7 separate regions of the Homo sapiens genome follow, and regions 1, 2, 3, 5, 6 and 7 are each reported to be linked to region 4. The links are microRNA targets in miRTarBase. Many come from high-throughput screens and were not tested one by one. Region 4 holds a microRNA gene; each other region holds the end of a gene's coding sequence.
The links. Region 4 holds the annotated microRNA hsa-miR-3127-3p (UCCCCUUCUGCAGGCCUGCUGG, at 1,232-1,253, shown strand). A microRNA usually pairs through its seed, bases 2 to 8, with sites in the 3' UTR of a target mRNA and lowers its output. Matches are read on the target gene's strand: a 7mer-m8 pairs with bases 2 to 8, a 7mer-A1 pairs with bases 2 to 7 and ends in A, and an 8mer does both.

Region 1 (4,077 bases), not on the chromosome of region 4:
CCACACGCCAGGCCTCCAACTTCTTCACAAAAGTGGGGTGGGTGGCGGAGGGCTGTGGCGGGGGCTTGGAGCTGCTGAGAGCCGAGAGGCGCAGAGCGCAAGCTGGCAGGCTGGGCTGCTATCCCGGCGCGCAGATGCCCCGCCGCCAGTCGAGCGCGAACATCTCTCCGGAACATCGATCTATCACCTCCCTTTAAGGACCCGGACCGGGAAATTTCCATTTTCTGTTTTGGGAATAAGAAATAAAAGCGACCAAGCTCTTGCCCTAATTTCCCCCCGCGGGCCCTTCCACGCGGGCTGGCGGGATCAGAAGGACGGGTCCGAGCTCGGGGGCGCGGGGTTCCTGTGAACTCCGGGCTTGCTCGGTCCGGTCCCCGCGCCTGCTGTCCCCAGGCCCTCTCGGGAGGCAGACCGCGGCAGCGCAAAGGGGCTTCGAGGATCTCTGAGCAACGACGGCTGAGTGACCTCTTTCCCTCTCAAGCACACCTTCAAGGAGCCGGTGGACCCTCTCACCGCCGGTAGCTGCAGGCTGAGGGCGGCGCCAGGCCAGGCTGGACTGTGACCCTGGGTGGCGGGGTGGCAGCACATAGACGCTTTGACTGGGCGTTTATTGCAAAAGAAGCGGGAACTCCCTTCTCCTGAGAGAGGGACAATGAGCAAGGACTAAAGAGAATTCAAGTGGAAAAATCAGTGAATACAAGAAAGACCCACTGCTGGAGCCAAGAGGTTTACATTAAGCTCTGCATGGTTCTTTCCTTTTCCAGGAATAGGCATTATTATTTTTTTTTTCTTCAAGTGTTTGAAAAAATTTTCCTTCTTGACGTATTACTTAACAAACCCATTCCGGTTGGATGTTAGATGGTATTAATTATCTCCTGCAACACTAAGGAAACTGTCCAAATAATGTACCTGTTTGCCCTTCCCCCAAATCATTTAGACGGGTATAGCTATTTCTTTTTAGACAAAATTGTTTCACTTAAAAAATTCTGCAAGAGTTGTTAGGCCTTTGACTAAATCCATTTTCTTAAAAAATAATCCTTAAAAAGAGTTAATACCACATAAGATGTGGCATCCTTTAATAGACAGATGCTTGGGTGTTCATCCTAATAGTTATACCCATCAATGAACAATTATTAAGTCATTTCAAGCACTTTGCAATTAGTTCAATTTGAAGTTAGTTTGGAGGAAAAACTTAAAAATCACTTTTCATTATTTTTCAGTTACTTTATGAATTTTTTCATACATCTTTTTTATGGATCAAAGGTTGGTCTCCGATTTTCTCATAAGGATGCAAGTAGCTCCACTACCTGCCTGACTGCTATTGCCTTTGCTTTGGAAGCCACTGTGGGTGAAGAGTAGGGAACAAGCTTTTAGGACTCTCCTGGGTGTAGAAGGGAAGTAGCAGAGAACATAAAAATCTGGAAAGAACCTCAAAGGGGCTGACCAGCCAAGGAGGCCAATGGGCAGGTTAAACAGGCCAGGTCAGCAGCAAGAACCTCCAGGCCGCAAATACTTTCCCCTGCAGCATCTGCTTTTCTTCTTTATTTCTGAATTCTGTCAGCTGTCATTTCTTAGAGTAAATAAACTTTTCTTTAACAAAGGCCGACTTTTAATACATTTGAGGTCATCAGTTAGTTACACTTCAGGACAAAAGGGATGCATTATTTGGAGATGATCTGTATCAAGGAAATGGACATTTTATTGAAAGGAAAAGAAGGGTGGGTAATTACTAAGTACAGAGCAATGTGTCGTGGAACAGCAAGCTTGGGGATGGTGCCATTGGAGAGTTTGGGATAGCATGACTGGACATTTGAGGGTTTGGAGAAAATAGTATTTGGTGTGTGAATAGAGAAGAAAAGGAGGGAGAACATTCCCAAACTGCCTTTCAAAGATAGTGAGTTGGTAGAGTTAGTCTTTAATCCCGGAAGAAGGAAGAAATTTCCTTGTTTGTTATCTTAGCCCTAGGGCCCAGAAAATGAGCCAAAACAATGCTAAATAGTAACTGTAGATTAAATAGATTTTTAAGGCTAGTCTAGGTACCTAACGACCACTTATTACACCATGGGAGAACGAATCTGGAGGTCCAAGTTGTTTCATTTCTAAAGTTTCAGAATAAACGTTTTCATAAATGCAGGGATACCTCCACTTATTCTGCATTAACTGCCTTCATTTAAAAATTACTTATTAATAAATGCAGTAGCACAATCTGCCAATATGTTTTGGGAAATATCACAAAAATAATTCATAGAGAACTTACGCAACATAATACAATTATCTCTCAAACCCTAGCAAGAAAATATTTTGAGAGAACCACTAATAATGTGAATTACTAGTTAATATTACTAACATTACTAATTATTAGTTAACATTGATTACTAATATTAACTAATAATATATGAAATATATATTTCCTCTGCTATGGAAATATGCTGTCATAGTAATTCTTTTAACAATGTATGTGCCTATTAGGTACAAAGAACAGTCAGTGTTACTATCTTTTACTCATTTGATTAAAAACAAAATATTACAAACAAAACAAACAAAAAACTCAAGAAACAAAAACACAGAGTCAGATAGTTGGGATGTTTGAAACACTGCAAACCTCTTTTACTGCATTTGCTCTATATAAGTCTAATAAATACAGAAGTAGTTATGAGCAAATAGATTTTTATTGCCTGCAAGCTGTTATACTGGAGCAGGAGAATATGGTATCTTGACGGAAGCACACTTGCTACCCCACACCTGGGGATTACTTATAGTTGAAAGAAGAAATGTTGAGAATGGAACAAAGACACAAACCCATTGGATAATCTAGTCTATATTTGGGTTTGGCAATCCTTTCATCCCAGGAATATACCTGTAGACCAATTCAAAGTACTAAGAACCAAGATTAAAGATTTTATACACATCACAATAATAGCAAATTAAGTACAAAACGAACCTGGCACATAAATTATAATTTGTAAGGTACACACCATTTTAACAAGGATACGACAGTGTTGGTGCAGTGGTCCGAACTGACTTCTCACAATGCTGCATTATGAGAAATATGTATCTCGCTTTACACAGAAAACATCATTTTGATGTGATTACAGAAAAATGCTCAAATCTTCTTTAAAAAAAAAAGTTCATGTTCTGATCACAAGCAGAGCCAAGGTTCATTTTTAGGTCAAACTACACAAAAGAGGATGCTCTTCTCCAAAAAAACAAACAAACAAACAAACAAAAAAAGGAAACAAAAAAACCCCAAAATCTTGGCATTTCCCCTTTTACTCTACATTCAGGCTTACTTTTTAAAGAAATACAAGCATTTTTATTTGGCCAAAACAAACAATGAATGTAATTACAAGGACAAGGTTAAAAAAATAAAAAACAATGTCGATCAAGGTCTTCCTTCCTTCTGCAAAGCTGTGTGATATCAGCCTTCTTCTTCTTCGTCACTGTCTTTCATAGTAATGCCCTGAAGTCCTCCTCCTTCTGAAACAGAGGCTGTGGCCTCCTCTACTGTTAAACGTCTGTGCACAGTATCATAAGTCTTACTGTTCAGTGTTCCTTCCAACACACCCTGCAATCGAAAGTCCCTGTAGGTTTTCTGAAGAAAGAAGATAAAATTTGCTTAGCTCACTTAGATTATATGCGTGTACATAGATATATACTCAGTTGGCATTTCAAAAATGATCTTGGGGAATCCACTGATAGGTTCATGTGGCTGTCCATGCCAATCATCTTCTTGGTGTATTTCTGGGGAGTAAATGGAATGACAGACTCTGGCTATTGCTTCAAACTACAATTACTATGACTACATCAAAATGTTGTTACTATCAGATGACAAATTCACTTTCCCCTCAGAACATTACTAATTGCACACAATTTACCTTTTGAACAACCTGTAGCAAAAATAAAATATGTACCTGTGTAAGTTTTTAATAAGAAATTATTAGTTTTTTTAATTGAGGGGGCTTTCCTTTAATACTGAAAAATACATTATATTTTATAAAATGCATTAATTTTGAGGGGTCAGTTGTGTGGAGGAAGAAGATTAATCCTATTATCGGTAAAAGAAGTTCACATTTTCAG
Region 2 (4,077 bases), not on the chromosome of region 4:
TTATAGAAAAAAGTAGGTAAAATGAAGTGTCAAAATTATTTTAATGCATTCCCTCAACTCTTCTCCCCTCCTTCTGACCCATTTCCAACACCCTTCCCAATTCTGGACCTGTGTTCCTTGCAGGAACAAACAGTAGGATGTTTTGTTTTATTTTCAGTAAAGAACCACATAATGTTTACAACTGTAAGGATCTTTCTAGACAAGGCAATCGATTAAGCCAATATCTTCAGAAAAGTCCAATTTATATGAGCTAAAACAAATCCAAGGGCACCTAGGGATTTGCTGAAATGGAAAAAATACAAACTCGCAAGTCTCTGATCTTAATTCAGTGTTTCAGTAGATCAGGGGATGTGGTCACTTTATTCACAAACTTTCCTAAGAACTCTGAACATTCTGTTCTTTTTACATAAGTTAAAGGCAAAAAAATCAAGAGTCTTGACATAGACCATCCATTCCGTTTCCTGGCCTTTGTACACACTGCTTCTTCAGCCAGGACCTCCCCACAAAAACGTCAACAACCCCTCCCCAAGCCCTGGGTCCTACCCAATCTTCCTGACACTATTCACATGCCATCTCCTCTGGGAAACCTTGACTGCCAAGCCGGTGAAGCATCCCCCCACACTCCCCCACCATATACACCCAGTGACCAGCACCTAACACCTATTTCGATTGTCTATTTCTCTCTCACCTAATTTGTAGTTGGAACTTATGTAGTAATTACCTTTTTTAACCTAATTTGTATCTGAAATTTAAGCAGTAATACTTATTTCTAAAAAATGTGCCTTTGAGCTTTTAAACTTGGCAGTTTACTTGACAATCTCAAGAATGGTAAAAAAATAATGGGCTTTGGGCTTTGGCATTGAACTAATGTGGATCTGGCATCCAGCTCTAGTACTAATGCCTCCATGACCTTGAACTTAACATCTCTGAGACTGTTTTATCATTTGGAAAATAAAGGCCTACTTCACTATGAGAGTTAAAGCATAAAAGTGCGAAGTACACCACCTGTTCGAGTTTGTGTTCAATAAGTGTTAGCTACAGTTACATTTCTCAAGAATTCAATTTCATCAAAAGGAGAGCTTCAACCACAAGGAGAGAAAGAATATTGCCAATTGAGAACTACCCAAAACTTATTTCATAATGATATGCAACTTTACCTACATTGAGAATAATCTGTAATTTATACTTAATATGTTATCTGCTATCCACTTATTCAACAACAAAGCACATCTAAAATGGTTTGAAAATGTATCTGACTCCTTTAAAATATTCTAATAAAAACCCAGAGATTTGAAAAAATCAAAAAGAATGCCAGCATCATCTAAGGGAGTATCTTTTACACCAGGAAATTAATAGTACAGTAAATTTCACTGATAAAGACTCCACTTGAATCTCTAGATTGGTAACTTTAGTTCATCCAAATCTGTAAGCATCAAATTTAAAATGGTTTAGAAAGTATTTTGAAATTATTTACTTAATAAATTGGCTTCTGAGCCAGCAAAGAATCCACTAATCCAGTCGCGTAATTAAACCCTCCTTTTAAGACCCTTAGAAAGGAACCAAGACGCCTAGATGATTGCTGCCAAATTTAACTTGGGAAGACCTGCAGACAATGCTCCCTAACAAAGACTCTCTGATGAACTTTTCAACCCTGGATCACTCAGAATCCCAAGAGGAAACATGTCCCATTTCCTTGTATTTTTTCTTTTTTCTTTTTTTTTGAGATGGAATCTCGCTCTGTTGCCCAGGCTTGAGTGCAGTGGCACGATCTCAGCTCACTGCAACCTCTACCTCCCAGGTTCATGTGATTCTCCTGCCTCGGCCTCCCGAGTAGCTGGGACTACAGGCTCCCACCACAACACCTGGCTGATTTTTGTATTTTAAGTAGAGATGGGGTTTCACCATGTTGGCCAGGCTGGTCTTGAACTCGTGACCTCAGGTGATCCACCCGCCTCAGCCTCCCAAAGTGTTGGGATGACAGGCATGAGCCACCACGCCCGGCCCCATTTCCTTGTATTTTCATTTGAAGATAAGCTGAATGGCTCTCGAAAGCCACAGAATTAAAGAAGGGGATCTACTTTCAACATCAGTACCAACTAAGAGTCTACTAGCATATACAACCACATTGCACATTCATTCAACTATATATTTATTAATCTCTACTTGCTCTCAATCAGAAGCCATTCTAGGTGTGTGGTGGGGGTGATGTCAAGATGAATGAACAATGCATTCTTGTGCTCCAAAAGCTCTCAGTTTGAATTTGCAAAAATGTAACATTTTAAGCCACTCACAATTTAAGTAGGCACTAATTCATAGCTGATACCAAAGACTTAAATGAGAGAGCCGAATGGGGCAGGAGACAAGACTACTGAAAATACAGGAAAAAGGAAACTGGCATAATCCTGGTCCTGAGAGTGAGATTCATTTAGAGTCAGATCGACCGATTACCAGCAATGTAAAAAATTTGGGTTTTTCCAATTGGGATGCATTTTCTAAAAGTTTTATATTATTATTAATTATTATTCGTTTGTCTTTGAGACAGGGTCTTGCTCTGTTACCCAGGATGGAGTACACTCATGCCTCACTGCAGCCTCACCCTCCTGGGCTCAAGTAATCCTCCCACCTCAGCCTTCCTAGTAGCTGGGCGTGCACCACCACACCTGGCTAGTTTATGTATTTTTGGTCGAGATGGGGTTTTGGATGTTGCCCAGGCTGGTCTCAAACAATTTAAAAGTTTAATGAACAAAAATGTGCCTCATTTCACAGGTTTTTAGGAAAACCAAATGAGAACACTGATGCAAGTATACAGCACAGTGCTCATCACTGGGAAGCACAATGTATAGCGCAGAATGTACAGTATAAAGTGTAGCAACCCTTTAATGGATGTTCAATACAATACCGTTCATATCACTTATACAAACTTTCTCAGTACAATTTTGTTCACGATCATGATAATGCTGAATGACAGAGTGAGGAAGTGGGATTAACAAAAAAGTAAAAGCTTCCAGACCAGCCAGAGCTAAAGTCAAATTAAGGCTCTGCTCTTGCCAGCCACTCCAACCTTAAAGAAGTTATGTTATTATCATGGATAAATTTTTACACAAGATTGTAAAAATTAAACGTTAAGGATAAAAGCCCACAACACGTGACTGATATTCCTCAAATATTAATTTCACTATTTGTGACCCCTAAATAAATGCATCTTCCAGGTGTTCTGAACACCTAGGTTATAGCTGCTCAGCATGTAAGCCCCTATGATAACTTGAGCCCTTTCCCCTTTCCTTCCCCAGTGGTGAAGGGAGAATGACATTCCTTCTCCCTGCCCACTGGCTCAAGTGTGGCTTATGGCCTATGCACAGCTACACCAATATTCCCTGTTGGAGCTCCAGCTTCCAGGGACAGCACAGCAGACACTGTCTGGGCCAGGGGTGCCAATGGCAGTGCCTCTGCCAGAATCTCAGCAGTCTTGGCACCCTAGTCCCACGGCAACTTCTCAATTTTGTGAGCTACTTGACATCCCATTCAATAAATTCATTTTCTCCTTAACAGTCATTTCCTGTTGTTCCTAAATAAGAATCCTAACTTTTATAAAACTAATAGACTAGAATTAACATCAATGCCATGAAATTATTTTAATATGTTTTTCTCCATGACTGAATATACAAATATAATGGAAGTAATGTATTCTTCTGCTGTAAAGATGGGTGGAATATATCAAAATCCACTCGCTGAATTTTCTTTAGAAAGTCCTCTAGAGAAACCTGGAAAAAAGAGAATAGTGATCACCAGATCATAAAATGATCAAGACTTAAAAAAAAAAAAAACTAACTAAAGAATAATTACAAGTATTTAGGCTATTTTAGTTTCCCTGAGATGGTTTTCTATTTAAGTGAGAATTTTAAAAGAGAGAAAGAAAAAGACATCCAAGAAGTTTCTATTAGACCAGTAAAAGGGTATCACAGAGCTAGTACCAGAAAAGCCAAGCCTCTTCTGCTCATAATATAAAAAGCTTTGGTTAAGACAAAAGGATTAGCAAAATCACGTTTGCCTGGCCTTATTACTAGATTTGGTGGAATG
Region 3 (4,000 bases), not on the chromosome of region 4:
TTGAGTGCTGAACTCTTTAGATCTTCCTTTCTCACAAAGAAAAAAAAAAAGAAAAAAGCCTCTCCTTATTGCTTTTTATTCTGTCATTAATTTACTTTTCAAAAGACACCTTGTCAAGCTGAAGATTATATCTTTAAACCATGTATTTACACCCACTACCTATAAAACCTTAGATTATAGATCTTCTTAAAAGACCTAAGGGAAAATGCATTGGATGAGTTTTATGCTTTTTGCTTTGTGAGAGCCAGTCATTCTTGAAGAGGGAAAGCTGCTGATGTAATAAAGGGTTGCTATGCTTGAAACTGCCACTGTATTTTAATTTGTAAAGCTTTTGGGGATGTAGCATCCTCAGAGGAGTGGGACAGATGCTGGCTTGGGTTCTCTGGCTCAGAAGACAGGAAGACAGCATTGCTCAGCTGGTGGTTTTGGCTCACAGATGATCCAGGCAATTACTTAATCTCAAAGTTCTCATCTTTTGCCCAGATTACTACACTTACCTCCTGATGAGCCTCCCTGCCTCTGGTTTCCTCCCCTCCCTTGTGCCCCACACACTATTCTCCAAATCCCTCCACCAGCAGACAAGAGCAAAGGGTGGGTGGAGGAAATGGAAGCGTGTGTTTGATGTGACGCATTCAAACCCTGGCCTGCTCTGTGACCCATGAGGCTCAACCTTGCTGAGATTCAGTTTCTTGGCTGCACAATAGGACATAGAAAACAAACCTTAAGAGATCTTGCATAAGACTAGTTAAAATAGCACAAATAACTTTACTGTCCCTGCCTTTTTGTTTTGTCACAGACCCCATTCCCCATGCAGGTATAATGATTCCTCCACTCTCAGGAGCCTCAACCTTGGCTGCACTTGGAATCACCTGAGGAACTTTTAAAACTAAGGATGTCAGGCCGGGCGCAGTGGCTCAAGTCTGTAATCCCAGCACTTTGGGAGGCCGAGGTGGGTGGATCACCTGAGGTCAGGAGTTCGAGACTAGCCTGACCAATATGGCGAAACCTCATCTCTACTAAAAATACAAAAATTAGCTGGGCATGGTGGCGTGCACCTATAGTCCCAGCTACTGAGGAGGCTGAGTCAGGAGAATCACTTGAACCCCAAAGGCAGAGGTTGCAGTGAGCCAAGATTGTGTCATTGCACTCCAGCCTGGAGACTCTGTCTCAAAACAAACAGACAAACAAAAAAACCCCAAAAAACTATGGATGTCTGGTCCCTACACCCAGTGATTAAGATTTAATTTGTTTCGGGTGCAGTCTGTAGACATCAGGGTTTTGAAAACTGCTCAGGTGATTGTAACATACAACCAAGTTTAAGAACCACTGTTTTTTTAGGTCAAGATCAAACGTTCTCTTTAAAGTGCCCACGTGGCCTGGCATATTTGGCCCTTGGTCACTTTCTAGCATGTAACTGCCACTACTCAGTAAATAATGAATGTAGGTTAATTATTAATGTAAGTTAAAAAGTAAAAAGCAAATTAATGACAGGATGAAAAGCAATAGGAGAGTTTTTTTTCTTCTTTCAGGTAGAAGATCTAAAGAGTTCAGAAATTAACTTCTAAATCACATTCTTTAATTAATAATAGTCTTAATAATGATGACGATAAGCATGAGGGTAATAATGTCCTGTATGACAGGCATAGTGCCAAGTGTTTTATATGCCTTATTTTATTTACATGCATTATTTTCCTCACTCCCCTTTCCTGACACATACGCACCTGCATGCACCCCCAAATGTCTTTCTCACTTTCAGACTTTGTCTCATGCCGAATTTCTGTCTGAGAGATCTCCTCCCAGTTTGCCTAGTTGAAAAGTCCTTCAGGGCCTGGGGCAATCCCCATGCCATCCACAATATACACAGTAATGGAAAGGTAAATCTCTCTCCCACCTGGCCTCCTTCAGCACTTACTTTGTGTGCTACATATTTTAGCATTAACTCAACAATTAATTTCCCTAAAACCTCCTCTAGTTGTTTCAGGTACATAATTCTTATTCTGACTTTAACAAGATTGAGGACTCTGGAATGACTTGAAGCATCAATATATATGTTAGTCACCAGACATTTCTTGAGTACCTACTATACACTAGGATTGTAGATTTGGCCTTCAAGGAGCTCAAAATCTAATAGGGGAAACTGATGGATAAACAGAAAATTCAGTGCTACCTAACATGTTCTCTATTTGAGGCATGACTGGAGGGCTGTGGGATTCTGAGGCTGGCTGGTGTGATTGGCCTCCCCTAGAGATGGGTCAGAGAAGGCGGATTGATCGTCACTAGTTGGCCTCTTCAAATCCACTCTCCACTCTGGGAGGCTGACCAATGTGTACCTCATCTATGAACTGACTCTTCAATTCATTCACTTATTTAATCACAGCTACTTACTAAGTCCCTGCTACATTTAAGGCACAAGCCTGACCTCCGGGGCTACAGTGCTAAACAAAAGAAGCCTGACTTCTGCCCTCAAGATTATTATCTCTTAGGAAGAGATAGGTCTTACATAGTCACAGGAGATGTGGGATTAAATATATATGCTATGATCTGAACATTTGTGTCCCTTCAAAATTCATATGTTGAAATTCTAACCCCAAAGTGATGGCATGAGGAGGTGGGAAATTTGGGAAGTGACTAGGTCACGAGAATGGAGCCCTAATGAATGGGATTAGTGCCCTTAAAGAAGGGACCTAAGAGACTGCCTAGCCCCTTCTGCCATGTAAGGACACAGCAGTAAGACAGTCCTGTAAAAACTAAGAAGTGGGCCCTCACCAGACACTGAATCTGCCTTGATATTGGACTTCCCAGCCTCCAGAACTGTGAGAAATAAATTTCTGTTGTTGATAAGCCACCTAGTTTATGGCTTTTTGTTATAGCAGCCCAAATAGACTAAGATAATATAATTACTAGTTGTGAAAATTGCAATGTAGGAAAAGAAGTGTTCCATGAGAAAATAATCAGGAGAAATGTCACATTTGTGGTAAGAACTTAAGGGAACTAGAGAGATTAATTGAATTAATAAACGAGTTCAAATGAAGGCAAATTGAAATAACTCAAGTCAATTTTTAGTATTTTTCTCATTGTTTCAGAGTGTCTGCTTACCCTACCAATTAATAATGTTTCTATGAGTGAACAAATTGTTATCAAAGAACTAAGAGAATTTTCATCCTACTTTGTTTTATTGGGCGTTGATTGTTTCAGGTGTCTGCTTGTTTTGTCTCTAACATCCTGTAAGTTCTCCCTGGTCATGGATTGAGTTTTCTCAGTTTTCTATTTTACTTTATTTTTTTGATGATCCAAAGTGCTGTAAGTAGGACAGAGCTTCTAGTTAACAGTCAACATCCAGTTGCTGAATAAAATGATTGAGTTTTGTAACTAATAGAATAGTTGGCTGTAGACAGCAAAACCTAGTCTTAGGCCTGGAAGCTGGCAGAACAAAGAAAAAAGTGTGCTGATTTGCATCTTCTCTTAGTTGAAAGAAGTCTTTATCCAATAGTCAGTGCAGGGGTCGACATCCACAGCATCTGGTCCAGCCTGTGTCCAGAGGCCCTCAGCAAGCCTGCGTCTGTACTTTCCGCCCTGGACACGAGGCCCCTCCATTCTGAGGTGCTGGATTGTCACACTCTCTTCTCCTTTCCTGGATGCCTGCTCTGCATACAGACCAGGAGCTCCAGCAACTCCAGCTCCCATCTGCTTTGGCTCCTGCAGAGGAAATTTCCCAGGGAGGAGAAGGTTAGCATATGGCTAAGAAGGAAGGGCCTGTCTGGTGATGAACAGGGAGGGGTGTGTGGCACCCTTGGGAGAGGAACTGGCCTCCCCTCCTCTGGTCGACTGCAGCTTGTTGGAGGTACGTACAGATAAGGTACATAGGGTCTTTGCTCCTTTGTTAGTCCAGATGTAGCAAGGGCAGTTTCACTGCAGAGACCATGGCAGTCAGGCTATTAATTGCCCCTGGGGGCTCTGTCCAGGGAGTTGCAGAGCTGCTACTGAGGAGGGAAGGCCATCC
Region 4 (4,077 bases):
CCCTGGAGGACGTGATCGAGGAGATCATCAAGTCGGAGATCCTGGACGAGTCCGACATGTACAGTGAGTCCAGCCTTCCACAGGGCCCAGGACCCCTTTCCTGCTTGGATCGAAACTTGGTGTCCCTAGCTGGAAGGGCCATAGTGCAGGGACACAGGAGGCCTAGCATCCAGAGGCCCAGTGGCTGGGTGCCCTGCACTGGCCGGGGTGAGCAGGGAGCAGGTTGCTGAGAGCAGTGCCCGGAGGCTGCCTTCACCCTCGGCCTTTGTGCCTCGGCGTCAGCCCAGGACCCTGCCAGCCAGAGCCTGCTGCTCCTGCGTGGGACTAGGGGCTGGAGAGCAGGAGCTGCGGGGCGGGTTCCAGTCTCTTCCTAAGTCCTCAGGGGTCTGTGTTCTCAATTCCACGCTCTTCTTCCGGCAGCTGACAACCGAAGCCGGAAGCGGGTGTCTGAGAAGAACAAGCGTGACTTCTCTGCCTTCAAGGATGCGGACAATGAGCTCAAAGTGAAAATCTCCCCGCAGCTCCTCCTGGCCGCTCATCGCTTCCTAGCCACAGGTAGCATGAGGAGGACCTTCCGGTCTTGGTGGAAATACGGTCACGGGGGAGAAGTCCTGGGTTTCCGGCTGCTTTCCCCCCATAGGACGAGGGCTGCAGCAGGTGAGGGGTGCAGAGACAACACAGCCACCCCTGGAAGGGGCCGGGTATCTGCTCCACCCCTGGGGATCTCCCTGCGATTCATTTGCCATTAATGGGCGGCTACTGCAAACTTCTAGGAAGCATCCAAGTTACTATATTTAATAGTTTGGGAAATAATGACTAGGCACTATGGCTTATACCTGTAATCCCAGCACTTTGGGAGGCCGAGGCAGGAGGATTGCATGAGCCCAGGAGTTCGAGACCAGCCTGAGCAACATGGCGAGACCCCATCTCTACAAAAAATACAAAAGCCAGGCATGGTGGTGCCCTCCTGTAGTCCCAGCTACTTGGGAGGCTATGAGGTGGGACAGTTGCATGTCTGTGGTCCCAGCTACTCAGGAGGCTGATGTGGGAGGACCGCTTGAGCCCAGGAGTTTGAAGCTGCAGTAAGTTGTGAATGCACCACTGCACTCAGCCTGGGCCACAGAACAAGATTCTGTCTCAAAAATAACAAAAAAGAAAATAACCACTGAGGTGGGCCCCTAGGCTGGCCAGGCCCATCAGGGCTTGTGGAATGGGAAGGAGAAGGGACGCTTCCCCTTCTGCAGGCCTGCTGGGTGTGGCTGGACCCCTCGTGTGCTCACCCACTCTGAGGAGCTTGCATCCAGCTCTGCTCTTACTCTCCAGCTCTCCCCTTTGCAGACGTGTGCTGGTTCCCGCAGGAATTCACTTCTAGTTCAGAGACATTTCTCTCTTTTCAGCCCTGATTCAAAGCTCCACTGGGGACTTGGGTGACAGGTTCTGCTCTGCCCGCTCTGTCCCCCTCTTCCCCTGGCCCAATTCATCTTCCTTCCCACCCCTTACTTGCTAAAGGGGTGGCAATTCCCTCTCCATTATTTTTCCTGTGGGATATTGATGCTGATGCAATAATTATAGTCTATATATTTTAGTATATATGGACAGCACATATATACTAAGTGCTGTCCATGTGCTATCCCATTCACCCTCACAACCACCCTGTGAAGCTTTTACCCCCATATTACAGATGAGGAAACTGAGATGCAGGTTAAGTAATTTGCCCAAGGTCATGTGCTGTTCTTGCAGGAGCCACTGTTCAAGCCCAGGCAGGCAGGCAGCCTTGTATCCAACCAGTCAGAAGCCAAGCGTGCTCCCTCCCCAGGGAGGTGCAGAACGAGGGCCGGCCGAGCAGGGCGGGAGTCGTCTGAGCACAGCGTGGCTGCTGTGGTTGGGGTGGAGGCACAGCAGTGATCGAGCTTTAGGGCCACCTGGCCAGCCCCGTGTGAGGTCTCTTCTCTCTCCTCCTACAGAGGTCTCTCAGTTTAGCCCCTCCCTGATATCAGAGAAGATCCTGCTGCGGCTACTCAAGTACCCAGATGTCATTCAGGAACTCAAGTTTGACGAGCACAATAAGTACTACGCCCGCCATTACCTGTACACCCGAAATAAGCCGGCCGACTACTTCATCCTCATCCTGCAGGTGAGCCCGCTCAGCCCTGGGCCTGCCACCTGCTCCCCCTGGCACTGCAGCAACCCCCAGGCCCTCTCTCCCACCTGCTGCGGAGGTGCATGGCTTCCCTGCCTGGGGAGCCTGCTGCCTGCCCTTGAGCCCCGCCTGCCCCACGTGGCCATCCTCTCCCTGAGAGGCCACTCTTGATCTCACAGGTCAGGCCCCTGAGCTCTCCAGGGCTCCAGTACCGGCCCTTCCTCCTGCCCCACTGTCCCTTGTTCCTCACTCCCCATCCTGCCTCATCCTTTGTTTCCTCCCTCACTTGGTCTCTAACTCCAGCCCTGTGTTTTTTCAGGGGAAGGTGGAGGTGGAGGCAGGGAAGGAGAACATGAAGTTTGAGACGGGCGCCTTCTCCTACTATGGGACTATGGCCCTGACCTCGGTCCCCTCCGGTGAGTTGTTGGGCATGGTCTTTGCTGCCCTTTGGCCCCCCTGCAGCTGGGGAGCCATGGACCGACACCAGAACTGAGCATGGGCCCGAGAGCTCATAGCCAGCTGGCTGGGGCAGAGGGAGGCTGGTGAGGCGGGAGCCGCCAGGGCCTGGAGCGGGTGGTGTGGAAGAGCAGAGGGAGCTGCCACTTTGGATGGGGTCCAGAAGCTGGAGGGGAAAAGAGGAGTGAGGGATTTTAGAGTAAAGGCCTGGAGGCAGCGGAGGGCATGTCCAGAGGTTGTGAGGAGACCAGCCTGCTTGGAGAGGAGGCCTGTGGGGAGGAAGGCCCAGGGCCCTGCTCCTGAGGACAGGAGGGGAGTCTGAGCATCCAAAGTGACTGGGGTCAGGAGCCAGGCCAGGGCCTGTTTGCCAGGGCAGGCTGCAGATGGGTTTGGCTTTTCGGAGGACGCGGCTACTGGGTTTTGGTTAGAGGTCAGCTCCGATGGAATAAAGGGCCTTGGGGACAGACAGAAGGGAGACTGGGCACCCTCCGAGAGGTGTTATGGAAGGTCCGGGGATGCGCCACTCTGGCCGCCCCAGTGCCCTCTCCTGTGCTGAGTGGCTCAGGCTTTCCCCGCAGAGCCCCACAGACAAGGCCCCGCAGGCCCAGGTCTCGCCAGCTCATCTCCTCGCTCCTCTCCAGGCTTCGGTCCTGGGGCGAGGTTGCTGCAGGGTAGAGAGAGAAAGTCCACTTTGGTGCTGGAGAACAGGCCACGCCAGTGGGGTACGAGCTGCAGCTCCCAGAGAACCTCTGTGCTGTGCCTCTCACTGTCCTTTGACAAAAAGGACCCCGAGGGGGAACGGGGGTAGGGCACCCATGAATACTGACACCCAGCTTGGCTTATCCACCATGTCCTCGGCCCCTCCACCAGATGAGTGGGGCATGGCAGGCTCCCTGGGCAGGGGACAGACAGGGCCCCAGAGCGGGGCTCTGAGCAGGTTAACCCTATCAGATGCCTCAGGCCTGGGGATGACTTCCTGTGCCTCCAAGAGCAGCTGTTCTCTGTTCAGTTTGAGGAAATCTCATTCAGAAGGGCGGGCAGGCACGGGAGGCTTCCCCCAGGCACTGTTTGTGCAGTGAAGCCTCAGAGGCCCGGTTAGGGCCCAGGCTCTGTCCGTTGACCCATAGTCTCTCTGTTCCCACTTGGTGTGGCCAGAAGAGAGGGGAGATGACTGGGCACACTCAGCCAGCTTCTGCCTGTCTCCGCACAGGGCTCACCGCTGTGCCCTGAGCACCCTTCCCAGCAGAGCCATGTCCCTTTCTCCACTGGGCCCATCTCTGCCCAAAGCAGCCTGGCCCCGTCAGGTCTGCCTCTGTCCTGTGCCTGTGGTTCCGTGTCCTGTCTCCTGACTGCGCCCATCACTGACCTTCTCTTTTGCTCCAGTGCCTTCAGTCCAGGTCGGGTGTCCGCCTGGCAAGCGGAACTCCCTGCTCTGCTGGCTCACAGGTAACGTGGCACAGCTGAGGGTCACGCTGCCACCT
Region 5 (4,077 bases), not on the chromosome of region 4:
TTTCCCTGGTTCTTAGGGAAGTAGCAGAAACATAGCCAGTTTTGTTGCTAAGGAATTTCTCTAGATATGTGGTCATTCCTTTTTATTATCAGTTCACCGGTGACAAGGATGGGAGTATCCACTGAGTTTCTGATGGATTTTTAAGATGGTATTCGCCTACTACAAAAAAGGCATGATTTTTTTTTTACCTGCCATTGTAAGATTGCTAGTGTTTTTGGATGAAAGGCACCTGAGAATCATAAGTATTAGAGATTTGGGCAATGTTCTCCACAGGTGTATTCAGTATTGTCGCCTAGTATTAATTATGTGTTCATTATGCATTTGTACCAATGTACCTTAATGGAATTTAAAAAAGAAGTCTTTGAAGTGACTTTTTATCTATCACTAGCCAAAATGATCGTCTCAACTCTTCCTAATCAGAAGAGTCACTGGTCAAATACCACAAAATTGGAATCTTAATCATTTTTAAGCCTAAGCCAGTGGCTCACTTATTGGAACAAGGATCATACTACAGAAGGATTTGAACAGCTCTTAAAGTTAGAAAATAGAGAATTTGATCCACAAAACATTTTGGGGTGGATATGCCAAAAACTAAACCAAACTGATTTAGAAATTTTTATTTTGACAGAAGCGATCCAAGCAGCGGAAGTTACAGCAGAAGGCCTTCCGCAAGAGGCAGCTGAAGGAGCAGAGGCAGGCCCGGAAGGAGAGGCTCAGTGGGCTCTTCCTTAACGAAGAGGTGCTGTCCTTGAAAGTGACTGAGGAAGACCATGAAGCAGATGTTGATGTTTTGATGTAATAAGGGTGAATTTATCAACGTTCTTTGTGAGCATTAAAATACTCCATCCTTATGGGTTTACATGCATCTTGACCAAAATTTTGGTTAGGGCTGTGCTGATGTACCATTAATAATTTAAGCCAGTGGTTCTTGGCAGGTGATCCCAAGACCTGCAGCTTCAGCATCACTTGAGAAGTTGTTAGGAATGCATACTAGTGGGCCCCGCCCCCAGACATAGTGAATCAGAAACCAACAGGGAGGCGCCTAGCATTGTTTTTTTAACAAGTGCTGGGTTATTCTGATGCACAGTCTAGTTTAAGAACCACTACTTTGGGTAAACGTTTTGACTGTTTAAAGTTTATGGCGGTGAAGTGGGCGTCTTCAAAGACTAGTACTTACACAGTTTAGAAGATTTCAAGGTACTGCTGACAGTAGTTTATTATGTCAGTATACATACATGTGTAGAGATCATAATTTAGTTCCCTTCTTAATGTTACAATTTCTTAGTTTACTTTTCCTAAAGGGCCATAGCATAATTCTTGATTCCTGGTGGAAATCTTTTCTGAGGTGTGGGGGTGGGCAAGGTGTGGATTGCTGTTTACGATAGTGCCTTCATTAGTTTTAGTTCTGTCTGTTTTCATTCATTATTGACTCAAAGGTATTAGAACAGGCCCTTATCTTTTTCCTATTAGATTTATTTTTGTTTTTTACTTTATGTAAGTTCAGAATCCTTTTTTAAGTGATGACTACTGATGAAATAATGTTACTAGTAGCTGAATTTTAGACTTGATGCTATGTTGATTAATATTTAAATGGTGAAAGTAATTAGGCAAAATAAGCAATTCTGCTTTTCTGTTGCTTTCAGAATTTTTAGGCTGTAAAATTGTCTCAGGCAGGAAGTCAGTCTATATCTCTCTCAAGTTCTTATTGTAGGTCATTTTTTTTTCAGCACAGCTCTAATTTTTAAATATTTGGTATAACAGCTTCTGGCATGTGACCTAGTTAATGTTGAAAATTAACTGATGAAAACCCTTGTAGATCTGCTAAACTTCTCTATAAATTGCTAGAAATATACAGAGCAATGAGATATAGAAAACACCTTAGCTTGTTGGTTATTAATAGAGCTCTAATTTTAACTGTGAAATCATGGAGTTTCTTTAAATGTTTTCCTAGAGTGTTTGTTATCATGAACATTAGAAATAGCATTATTCCTTTTCTTCTACCACATGTCTTGAACATTCACATGGGTTAAAGAAGATGGAAACTGATACTACTGACAATCAAGCTGCTTTCTGACTTTCATAATTTTCTTTATATTGTGGATAGCATTTTGAAGGTGACCGTGATTCTGTAGGAAGAGCTGTAATCAATATTTTTCAAACTCTAAGAGTACAGAGGTTAGTAAGATTTCTTTTTTTTTTACTTTTTGTTACGTCAAGTAGCTTATTAAGAAAAAGATTCATGACTTAAATTCTTAATTCTCAGTTGATACAAAGGCTTATAATCATGTGTTTTAAAATTTTGATTTCATTTTCGTTCCTTGAAGGTTAAAGAATGGAAACTGGGGATAAAAATTAATACACTGCAGCTTTGCCAAGGTCTGTGATATGGTTGTAACCTTTTAAAGACTACTAAAGTCATAATTTGAAATTTTTACTAAAATAAAACATATGTGTCTATGGTTTTCAATTGGAGTAGTCTTTCTTACTTTCCCCCTTCCCCTCTTTGGTTCTCCTAACCAGCTTAGAGGACCCAAAGAGAGCTTAGGGATAGACACCAGAATACTCTGTGGAGGTGGAACAACTTAACCTCACTGTTTTCCCTTCCAAGTATAGGAAGAGCAAATAGAGCATAGTAACTGTATCTAAATTCTCTACCTGCTCTTAGCAAAAGCAAAATCCCACAGAATGATTGCCTGCTGTCTTTACCTATTCTTCAAGGAAAACAGGCCACTTTTGGAGACCATAGAGCACCATTTATCTGTCAAATACTTGGAAACTATTTACTTAACGGTCATCAGTAAAAAACCCTAAACAAGGTCATGATATAATTTAAGACCAATTCCCCTACTCTCCCAATAATCACATAGTCTTATTACTTTCAATTTAACTTGAGTCACTATTAAGCAAGTTTACCAAAGTGCCACAAAGTTGATTTTTAACGTTTGTAAAGGTTTGAATGTTTATAGAAGTGCATCATGAAATTTTGTGTAAATCCAGATGAACTGTCATTATAGTACTATAAATTAGAGATAGTCCATAAAGTTGGGTTGAAGGAGATTGAAAATATTTCCTTTGATTAAAAGAAAATAATTAACTAACTTGGGCTTGCTTGTGATTGAAGAGGGAGATTAGATAGTCCTCTGTCCCCCCAAAAAAGAAACTAGCAGAGAAAGACATAAAAAGCTCTTTGGTGTCTGTTCATGTGCTGTACATTTTTTCCGTTTTAATGTCTTGTGTAGATAATTCAAAGTTTGAACTATTTCTTTCTTGGAATAAGTAATAATTTATTCAATATGGTGTATCTCTGAGTTCAATTTAAAACAATCCAACTCAGTAATATTTATTTTTAAATACAAATCCTAACTAACCAATTAATTAATAAAAAGGCAAGACTTACTTGCTGTAGTATTGGTTCTCATCTGTAGAGAACTGACATTGGAGCAAATTTTAAGTCTCCCCTTTGAAAATAAGCCTTGTTAACTGAGGGCGTAATACATTTCCCACAGATTTATCCAGAAACATTTTATTAGAGATCTTATAGTAGTATCTCAGTTCCTACTACAGCTTTCTAAAGGATGAGACTTGCATTTAACAAAATGACATATATAATATTTTTCTATAGTTTTGCAACTGAATTAAAGGAAGGTGATGTATTATAATGTGTAGTGAGGTATAAAGGGCTAGTTCATTCTCTCCCAACAAGAACTTAGAATAAAATAACACTTTTTTTTCATGAGACTTACCTCATTTTTGTTAGGCTATGGCAGTTTTGTCCAGTTCCTCTGTCCCTTGAGTGAATTAGATATTGGTGAATTAATCTCAGAAACTGACCTATAAAATAATGACTCATTATAGATTGGGTGAACTTCTCATTTTATTTAGCTTTTAAAAGTGCTAAATCCTCTCATAAAGGAAAAATTATAGGAAACTATAGCGGTATCCAGATTCTGATGAGCTTTAAAAATTATAAAATATAGCAAATGTCTTCATATTTTAGCCAGAAATATTAGTACACAACCAATATAGAAGTCTTGTTTGTTTCTGGGTTCTCCAGCAGAGACTTTTTGTTTGTGGCTT
Region 6 (4,077 bases), not on the chromosome of region 4:
TCCAAACAAAGAGAGAGAGAACAGGAACACTCACTGTGTGTACAGCCCTGAAATGAGGTGGGCGGGCAGGGGTTGGGTAATGACAGGGAACTTTTGCACATGCTAACAATGGACACAGGGAAAAGTCAAAAAGGACATGGAGGACACCAAGAACACATCTAATTGCCAGAGACAGAAGGGAACCTAAGGCTTGGATTTTCCATGAAGCACCCAACTCCTAAGAGAAGGTCTCCAGGGGAGCAGAGCCTCAGCCTCTCTCCCCACTCCCTGGTCACAACCCAAGGGGAAGCAGAAGATGCTGGCTGGGGTGGGGAAAATTTTTCAGGGAAGAGGACCAGAATTTCTGCTCAATCTTATGGGGATGGCCCTTTGTTCCCAGAAATCCAAGCTCTTAGCTTCCATCCAGGCCCTGGCCACTCAAGGGGAACCCAGGAGACAGTGGTCTGGCTGCATTCAAGGCAAATCAATTTCATGATGTAACCCAAGTAAGAAACAAAACTACAGCAGAAAACACATTGTAAGTGAAACCTTCACACAACAGAAAAGGATTGCTTAAGACTTGACAGCGAGTCTCCACTCTGAGCTGAGCCCTTTCACACGTGAGACTTGTAGGGGAGCAGCTTCTTCACAAAACCATCTTTGGCCTGGGGAAAGAACTGTGCTCAAGGGCAGTGCTACTGCTGTGCTAACTCACTGGGCAGGGGGAGGAGAGAACAGAGAAGTGCATGGTCTCACCAGCTGGCTGCTCAAGCAGCCCAGGACCCTGCTGGGGCGAGCATTCCTTTTAGAAAAGAAAACCCATCAGCAGGTATGAAGCCCTCAGGGTCTGGTATCAAAGGTGGGTGGATTGCACCTTGGCCTCTTATGTCATTAGGAAAGGGGTTTCATAAGGTCCCAGAGCCCAGGACAAATCCATGGACAAATAATGGTGAGATGGGGGAAGGCGGAGAGAAGAAGGGGATGTGGGAAGGGAGTGGCGTTCTGGCTAAGGAGGAAGACAGAACAGAAGGCTAGGGAGCACAGCACCGGCAGCACCCTATGGAGCACAGCTCTCTCCTCTGCCAATTCACAGCATTAACACCTTCCCCTTGGGCAGGTTAGCTGGGCTGCAAACGGGCCACAGAAAGTCAGTAGTTTCAATCATACACAGCACCCTGTGTGTATAACAATCACATTCTGGATTCTACAAAATCCTGGCCTTTTCCAGAGATATAATTTAGGTAATAAATATTCTCCACCCCGGAGCTGTATAAAACTTCTATAAAAATAGAAACGACATTCTTGGTTCCAGCCGGTTGGGATTCAGAACAGCGCCTCCCCAACCTAGCATTTTTTTCTTTTTTTTTTTTGTTTTCTTTTTTCTTTTTTATTTTTATTTTTTGCATTTATTTAAAAAATCCCATCATGACCCTGGAAGCCTTTAGAACAGTTTTATCCTTTGAAACACAGGACACATTTCTCCCAGTGCGCAGAATTTCAAGTTTACGTGGTTCAGCTTAAGAAGTGTATGTTTCACGTTCCTTAGAGGACAACAGACCCAAGTTATCACTATGAGAAAGGAACAGCTGTCCCAGCTTCAATGGGATAATCCAACACCACCAGCTACCTGTACAACAGTAAGATGGTCAATCCCTGTCTGTTACCCACAGGGACAGCATGACAAGGAGAGAGCCCCCATCTGACTTAATAGCAAACCAACCCCTTTATTCTTATCTCTGCTGCTAGGGGTCAAGACTGGTATTTGTTGAGGTTTCAGATTCCAGAGACCCAGGGATCCCATCCCTGGCTGTGGCTACAGTCACATCTTAACAGGGCCACCTCTGCCCAGGTGTACATTCCCAACAGCATGTCCTTCCTGGTTCTCTACCCCCACAGCACTTCTTAGAGCAGAGGCAGAGCCCAGAAGCTGTGTGGGTCACAGGCAAGAGCTGAAGTAAGACCTGCAAGAGGCGGCAGGGAGCTAACTGTAGCACGAGGACAAAAATGAACACGGTAATACTGAGGTAAATGAACACTCAATTCATGTGGAGGCTGTAAACGTCCTGATGTCACCTCTGCCTCAAGAGCAGAAAATGTGACTGGAGTGGTTACAGGAGGGGCCTGCCAGACCCCTGTGGGAATACTACATCTGGGACACCTCAATCAAGGAGGCAAGGGAGAATTTCTGGCCACTGGCAAATGAAGCATACTGGCTTGCAGGGACCTTCTGATTCAAGTACACCAAGAAATAAGCTCCTCCTCCCCCAACTAGATGGTATTGATCACTCTGCCCACAAATGGTACCCCCTTCAGCAAGAACTGCAAGCCCTTCTTGGATTTGCCTTCATGAGAAAATGGTGGCTTGGGATGGAGGTGACATTCCTTGCTGTGGTGAACTGCAAAGAAGGAAACCAGGCAATGTATTCCATAGAGGCCTTTAAAGAGACCCGTTGGAAATGGGCCATGGTCTAATTTGGTGTTGAAATAAACTAACCTCTTTGGCTGTTTCTCCCAAACTGCCACCAGCCAGGCAAGGCCAATCCAATACTGACTGCTGGCTGGGGGAGCTCGTAATGGGTGATGCCGCCCTGCTTTTTGCATATGTCAGGCTAACAGGTGCTTTATTTCCAGAGAATTGTTAATGCCCTTTTTTGAAAAGAGCAGCAGAAATTCCGGACAAGAATCTGAAAAATAGGTGTCAAAAACTATTTCCCAGAAGGTAGCTGTACAGGAGTTTGAGTCTCCAGCTGCCAGGGCATTAGGTGTCTAGTCACTCCACTCTTCCCCAAAGCCGCTCTGCTCCCCACAGCTCCCAGGTGTCAGTTCTCATTCTACCCACCCTCACACTAAGAGAGGTTCTGGGGGTCACTTTTTTGTTCCACTCAGTCCTCTCTCTTGGGGTGGTTTGGGGCAAATCCTGATCATCGTCTGTGTTAAATGTTTCCCTGTCCCCCTTCCCCAGGGTGGTTTGGTGTTGGTCCTTCTCAACACACACTGGTTACAAACACAGCAAACTTTAAATAAAGGAGAAACAAAAACAAAAACAAAAAAAACCTCAGGATATGGCACCTAAACTCCAAAGTAAAACACTGGAAACCAAAGCACAAACTTGTCCTCTGTACGAAGCGAAACTCCCACAGAAGGCAGTAGCCGAGTCTTCAGGGCAAGCTGTGCCTGCGAGAGTGGCAGGGATCAGGGTCCAGGGCTGTCAACACACAGCCTCAGGGCTTCGAATCATTAAGGGTGCTCCTCCCCCACTTACCAGAAGACCCTCTCACTCCAGTCTCAGAGGGGAGCACGCTCAGTAGGGCTTGCTGTCATTCTTCGAACGTTTGAGCTGCACTTTAAGCCGCTTCATGCCAATCTGAAAGCCGTTCATGGACTGGATGGCAGCTTGGGCCGAAACAGGATTGTCGTAACTTACAAAACCTGTGTGTCCAAGCAGAAACCTAGGTGAGGGACATAATGAGGCAAGGAGATTCTCAGTCCTCCTTATGCAAGATACCTTATGTGCTTCATCTCAAATCCCAATTTTATTCAGCAGGGACAAGAAATCTGGACATTATGTCATACGAAATAAATTAGGTTCTTAATAGTACCACTTAACAGCTACATGGTAATTTAAAGGTTTTTTTCTTTTTCTTGAGACAGGGTCTTGCTCTGTCACCCAGGGTGGAGTACAGTGGTGTGACCATGGTTCACTGCAACCTTGGCCTCCTGGGCTCAGGTGATCCTCTCACCTCAGCCTCAAGTAGCTGGGAACACAGGTACACGCCACCACGTCTGACTAATTTTTTGTAGCCATGAGGTCTCACTCTGTTGCTCAGGCTGGTCTCGAACTCCTAGGCTCAAGCGATCCTCCTGCCTTGGCCTCCCCAAGTACTGGGACTTACAGGCACAAACCTGGACTGTTTAAAGGTTTTTTTGCAAACCATTTTCCATATATTATTTTTCTCTCTGGAGCAACAGTGTGGGTAGAAATCCTTACCTCCACTACAGCAATGAGAAACTGGGGCTCAAAAAGAGGTCATAATGACCTGCCCATGGCCAAGTTAAAACAACACCACAAACTCATATTCAGATCTTTCTGCAGTGAGC
Region 7 (4,077 bases), not on the chromosome of region 4:
AAAGAGGCAGGCAGATTCGATCCAATGCCAGCTTTGTGAGGAAAGGGTTTACGATGCTGTCCAAGAGAACTTTTTTTATTTTTTGAGACAGAGTCTCGCACTGTCGTCCGGGTTGGAGTTCAGTGGTGCGATCTCGGCTCACTGCAACCTCCGCCTCCCTGGTTCACGCGATTCTCCTGCCTCAGCCTCCCTAGTAGCCGGGATTACAGGCGCACACCACCAGACCCGGCTACTTTTTTGTATTTTTAGTAGAGACAGGGTTTCACTATGTTGGCCAGCCTGGTCTCGAACTCCTGACCTCGTGATCCGCTCGCCCTGGTCTCCCAAAGTACTGGGATTACAGGCATGCGCCACCGCGCCCGGTCCCAACAGAACTTTTCTACAGTGATGGAAATGGACTAAATCTACACTATCTAATATGGTAGCCATCAACCACATGCAGCTCTCGAGCACTTTGAAATGCAGGTGGTACAAGTAAGGAACTTTTTATTTTAATGAAATTAAATAGCCACATGTGAGGTGATGCTTTTATATTAGACAGTGCAGGAGACCTTAATCCCTACTGGTAAGAGTAATAGGAGGGATCAGGACTAGGTTTGTCCTCTTCCAGCCACACATTGGCATCATGTTTTCTGCACTGACCATTCACACATATTTGAGCAAAAAAAACTCCAGCAGTGATCCCACACTTGTTTTAATTACAATAGAATAAGTTAACCAAGAAACAAGTTGGAAAATGGAAGGCCCCTCCCAGGTTTGCACCCAGAGGCAGGGAGAGGTAGACCCTCACCAGAAAGACCTCCAGTAATAACACAGATAGCCACCTACTATTTTGGTTTTTTTTTTTTTTTTTTTGAGATGGAGTTTCGCTCTTGTCGCCCAGGGTGGAGTGAAATGGCGCGATCTCGGCTCACTGCAACCTCCGCCTCCCAGGTTCAAGCGATTATCCTGCCTCAGCCTCCCTAGTAATTGGGATTACAGGCGCCCACCATCACACCCAGCTAATTTATTTTTAGTAGAGATGGGGTTTCACCACGTTGGCCAGGCTGGTCTCAAACTCCTGACCTCAGGTGATCCACCCGCTTTGGTCTCCCAAAGTGCTGGGATTACAGGCGTGAGCCACTGCACCCAGCCACCACCCCACTATTTCTTAAGGACTTATTATGTGTGAAGAACTGTAGTAAGCTTTGCATATATTACCTCGTTTAATTTTCATCTCAACTCTATGAAGCACACTTAGCCACTCTTCATAAATGAGAAATGGTGGCTCTGAGAAGTTAAGTGACCGCCCAAGGCCACACAGCTAAGTGGAGGAGCTATTAACCACTATCACTACTGTCCCCAGGCCTTGAGATTATTGATAAACTAGAAAACTTTAGATGTTTCTAAGTCTACCCCAGACCTCATGAAAATGGCAGCAGGAAGGTAGGCTCATGTAATGAGTATCCCAGGTCAGATGTGCAAAAAGACTTAATTTTAACATAAGGAGAGACAGTGGTGACCTACCAGAAGAACCTCCTAAGCCAGTGAGATTGTTGTTTGGAGTATGTTTCTTCTAGCAGCCCTTATTTCTTTTTAGATTCTGGATCAGAAAAGCAAAAGCAGCTGTCAGGACTTTTGAAAATCAGCATGACAAGCCATATCCCCAACTGTAAGCCTGGAGCCAGGCACTGACAAAGTCACAGCTAAAAATCACATCTAGGTTTTGTCAATCCTTCCCAAGTAAGTACATTGATAGGGTACCTCGGGCTCCCCCAGTTGTCAGAAGAGGTCTGTACCTTCTCTGTGAAGATCTACCATTCAAATAACCCTTACACATCCTTGGAGGAGGTATTAGACTAGTTAGGCAATCAGGCTGGTGGGAGGGTGGGGATCAAGAAAAGCAGAGGCAAACAGGACCAAACTTTCCTAGCTGAAATATCAATTCATTGAGGCGGTAGGCCCATAAAAGCAGAACCAATAGCCTTTGACACCTAAAAAAAAGTAGCACACCACCAAAGGTGTAAAAAGTACAAAAAGATTAAAGGTATGAAAACAGCAAAGAACGGCCATTTTAATGGAAGACACTGGGGACATGGAGGGCCAGGGGACTGATATGCACCGGAGGCATTATTTCTTACTTTACTCAACACTCTTGGGAAGTCAAAGTCTTCACAACACTTTAGTCTCTGCCTCTACACTCCTTCTCAATTCTTACATCATTAGGAATGAGGGGCTTCCTTTCTTCTCCTGAAACCCCATCATCTTTGAATCCAAGCAAATGCCGAGGCCCCAGGAAGACAGCTAGGTCAGCATGTTGCAGTTGGCCACTAGAGGGTGGTGTTTCTGTAATTAAGGGGATCTTGAAAGGCTACAAAACTTGGATGGGAGTGGCAGCCAACTGGACTTAGTATATGAGGAACCCAGCAGAATAGAAAGGTGGGAAAGGCAAGTAGTAAATCTTAGGATAATGGTCCTTAATAAGTGAGGAATAAGGAATAGGAACAAGGTAGGAGGAAAGATATCCCACCAAAGACCACAGCCATCACTCCTTGGAAAAAGAGATCTTGGCTCTGAGCTCTCACTAGATACATAGAAGTCAACAATAAAATAAGGCCGGGGGCAGTGGCTCACGCCTGTAATCCCAGCACTTTGGGAGGCTGAGGTGGGTGGATCACTTAAGGTCAGGAGTTCGAGACCATCCTGGCCTAGGTGAAACCTCATCTCTACTAAAAATAAAAAAGTTAGCTAGGCATGGTGGCGGGTGCCTGCAGAAGACTGAGGCAGGAGAACTGCTTGAACCTGGGAGGCGGAGGTTGCAGCGAGCCAAGATTGCAGCACTGCACCACTCCAGCCTGGGCAACAGAGTGAAACTCCGTCTCACACACACACACGAAAAAGAAGTCAACAACAAAAGATTTCTCAATTTATTTGCATATATACATTGTCACCCCAGGGAGCCAGCTCTATTTCAGAAGTCCCCGGCTCCCCTTACCCAGCCAACACCCAAAACCCACCCAAGAGGATGGGTCCTGGATAAATAATGCCCAGGACTCATATCCTGACCCCATAGGTTATAACAGAATTCATCAAACAAAAACAGAGGGCTAGAGGCCAGTGTCCATGAGAGGTCCTTGCCCCTTTGTAAACATTGACATCCAGGCCACTGGAGCCTGGGGAAAGTGTGCAAACATGAGGATGCCACACTGTGTGTCCAGGGGCCAGGAACACAGCTGGCAACCATACCCGTGAAGTCCTGAGGATCTGCCCCCCACTGGAACATGGCAAGTGCCGGGGGCAGAAGCAAGGCAGTTACCCCACACCCAAGGGCTCACATGAGATGGCAGCGACGCTCTTGCCCATAGGAATTCTCCACACGGGCAATCTCCTGGATGACTTTGGTGAAGATGCCTTGAGTCAGCTATAAGAGGAGAGGATTCAGGGCAAAAGTCAGTTCAGTGCCAATACCACCCAGCTCTGGGGTGAAAGCCCCATTCCCGCAACATTCCCACCACCAAGCAGTACAATAAGGAAAACACAGCTACCATCACCACCCTTCTAGTCTTCAGGCCCAGCACCTGATTCTCTCGAGCAGATGACTCCATAAATGTCGCACCCCAGGACTCTGCCAGCTTCTTTCCTTCAACTGCCTGTACCTCTCTGGAAGCAAATTTGGGACATAAAGATGGAGGATAGAAATGTCAGTAAGTGCTCTGAAAAATCTTCAGAATCAAGACTTCCTGGCCAGGCACAGTGGCTCATGCCTGTAATGCAGCACTTTGGGAGGCCGAGGTGGTGGATCACTTGAGCTCAGGAGTTCAAGACCAGCCTGGACAACACAGGGAAACACCATCTCTATTAAAAAAAAAATGGGCCACACGCGGTTGCTTGTGCCTGTAATCCCGATACTTTGGGAGGCCTAGGCGGGTGGATCACAAGGTCAGGAGATCGAGACCATCCTGGCTAACATGGTGAAACCCCGTCTCTACTAAAAATACAAAAAATTAGCTGGGCGTGGTGGCACGCGCCTGTAGTCCCAGCTACTTGGGAAGCTGAGGCAGGAGACTCGCTTGAACCCGGGAGGCAGAGGTTGCAGTG

Region 1: miRTarBase lists CADPS2 as a target of hsa-miR-3127-3p. Seed matches in the 3' UTR shown: 7mer-A1 at 3,263-3,269.
Region 2: the mRNA of NDUFAF6 is a reported target of hsa-miR-3127-3p. Seed matches in the 3' UTR shown: 7mer-A1 at 3,273-3,279.
Region 3: miRTarBase lists C8A as a target of hsa-miR-3127-3p. The part of its 3' UTR that is shown has no 7-base or 8-base seed match.
Region 5: the mRNA of FAM199X is a reported target of hsa-miR-3127-3p. The part of its 3' UTR that is shown has no 7-base or 8-base seed match.
Region 6: the mRNA of CELF1 is a reported target of hsa-miR-3127-3p. Seed matches in the 3' UTR shown: 7mer-m8 at 2,930-2,936, 7mer-m8 at 2,284-2,290 and 7mer-A1 at 1,084-1,090.
Region 7: the mRNA of RHEBL1 is a reported target of hsa-miR-3127-3p. Seed matches in the 3' UTR shown: 7mer-A1 at 2,966-2,972.

Annotation. Positions count from the first base shown.
Region 1 is chr7:122,316,747-122,320,823 of GRCh38, forward strand. CADPS2 (calcium dependent secretion activator 2) reads right to left here. Exons shown (of 30, transcript NM_017954.11): 30 at 1,665-3,592. The coding sequence ends at 3,419. Among named protein-coding and RNA genes, the nearest start is that of FEZF1, 14 kb to the left of the region's middle. RefSeq lists an enhancer at 130-984.
Region 2 is chr8:95,057,493-95,061,569 of GRCh38, reverse strand. It overlaps NDUFAF6 (NADH:ubiquinone oxidoreductase complex assembly factor 6), which reads right to left. Exons shown (of 9, transcript NM_152416.4): 9 at 2,860-3,761. The coding sequence ends at 3,633. Among named protein-coding and RNA genes, the nearest start is that of MIR3150A, 13 kb to the left of the region's middle.
Region 3 is chr1:56,917,261-56,921,260 of GRCh38, reverse strand. It overlaps C8A (complement C8 alpha chain), which reads right to left. Exons shown (of 11, transcript NM_000562.3): 11 at 3,038-3,696. The coding sequence ends at 3,545. Among named protein-coding and RNA genes, the nearest start is that of C8B, 47 kb to the left of the region's middle.
Region 4 is chr2:96,797,093-96,801,169 of GRCh38, forward strand. It overlaps MIR3127 (microRNA 3127), which reads left to right and starts at 1,186; the gene lies at 1,186-1,261. CNNM4 (cyclin and CBS domain divalent metal cation transport mediator 4) reads left to right here. Exons shown (of 7, transcript NM_020184.4): 2 at 1-63; 3 at 421-555; 4 at 1,965-2,134; 5 at 2,460-2,556. RefSeq lists an enhancer at 3,619-3,948.
Region 5 is chrX:104,188,980-104,193,056 of GRCh38, forward strand. It overlaps FAM199X (family with sequence similarity 199, X-linked), which reads left to right. Exons shown (of 6, transcript NM_207318.4): 6 at 629-4,077. The coding sequence ends at 799. Among named protein-coding and RNA genes, the nearest start is that of FAM199X, 25 kb to the left of the region's middle.
Region 6 is chr11:47,468,950-47,473,026 of GRCh38, forward strand. CELF1 (CUGBP Elav-like family member 1) reads right to left here. Exons shown (of 15, transcript NM_001376376.1): 15 at 1-3,408. The coding sequence ends at 3,281. Among named protein-coding and RNA genes, the nearest start is that of RAPSN, 22 kb to the left of the region's middle.
Region 7 is chr12:49,061,793-49,065,869 of GRCh38, forward strand. RHEBL1 (RHEB like 1) reads right to left here. Exons shown (of 8, transcript NM_144593.3): 7 at 3,558-3,639; 8 at 2,884-3,400. The coding sequence ends at 3,311. Among named protein-coding and RNA genes, the nearest start is that of KMT2D, 3.0 kb to the left of the region's middle.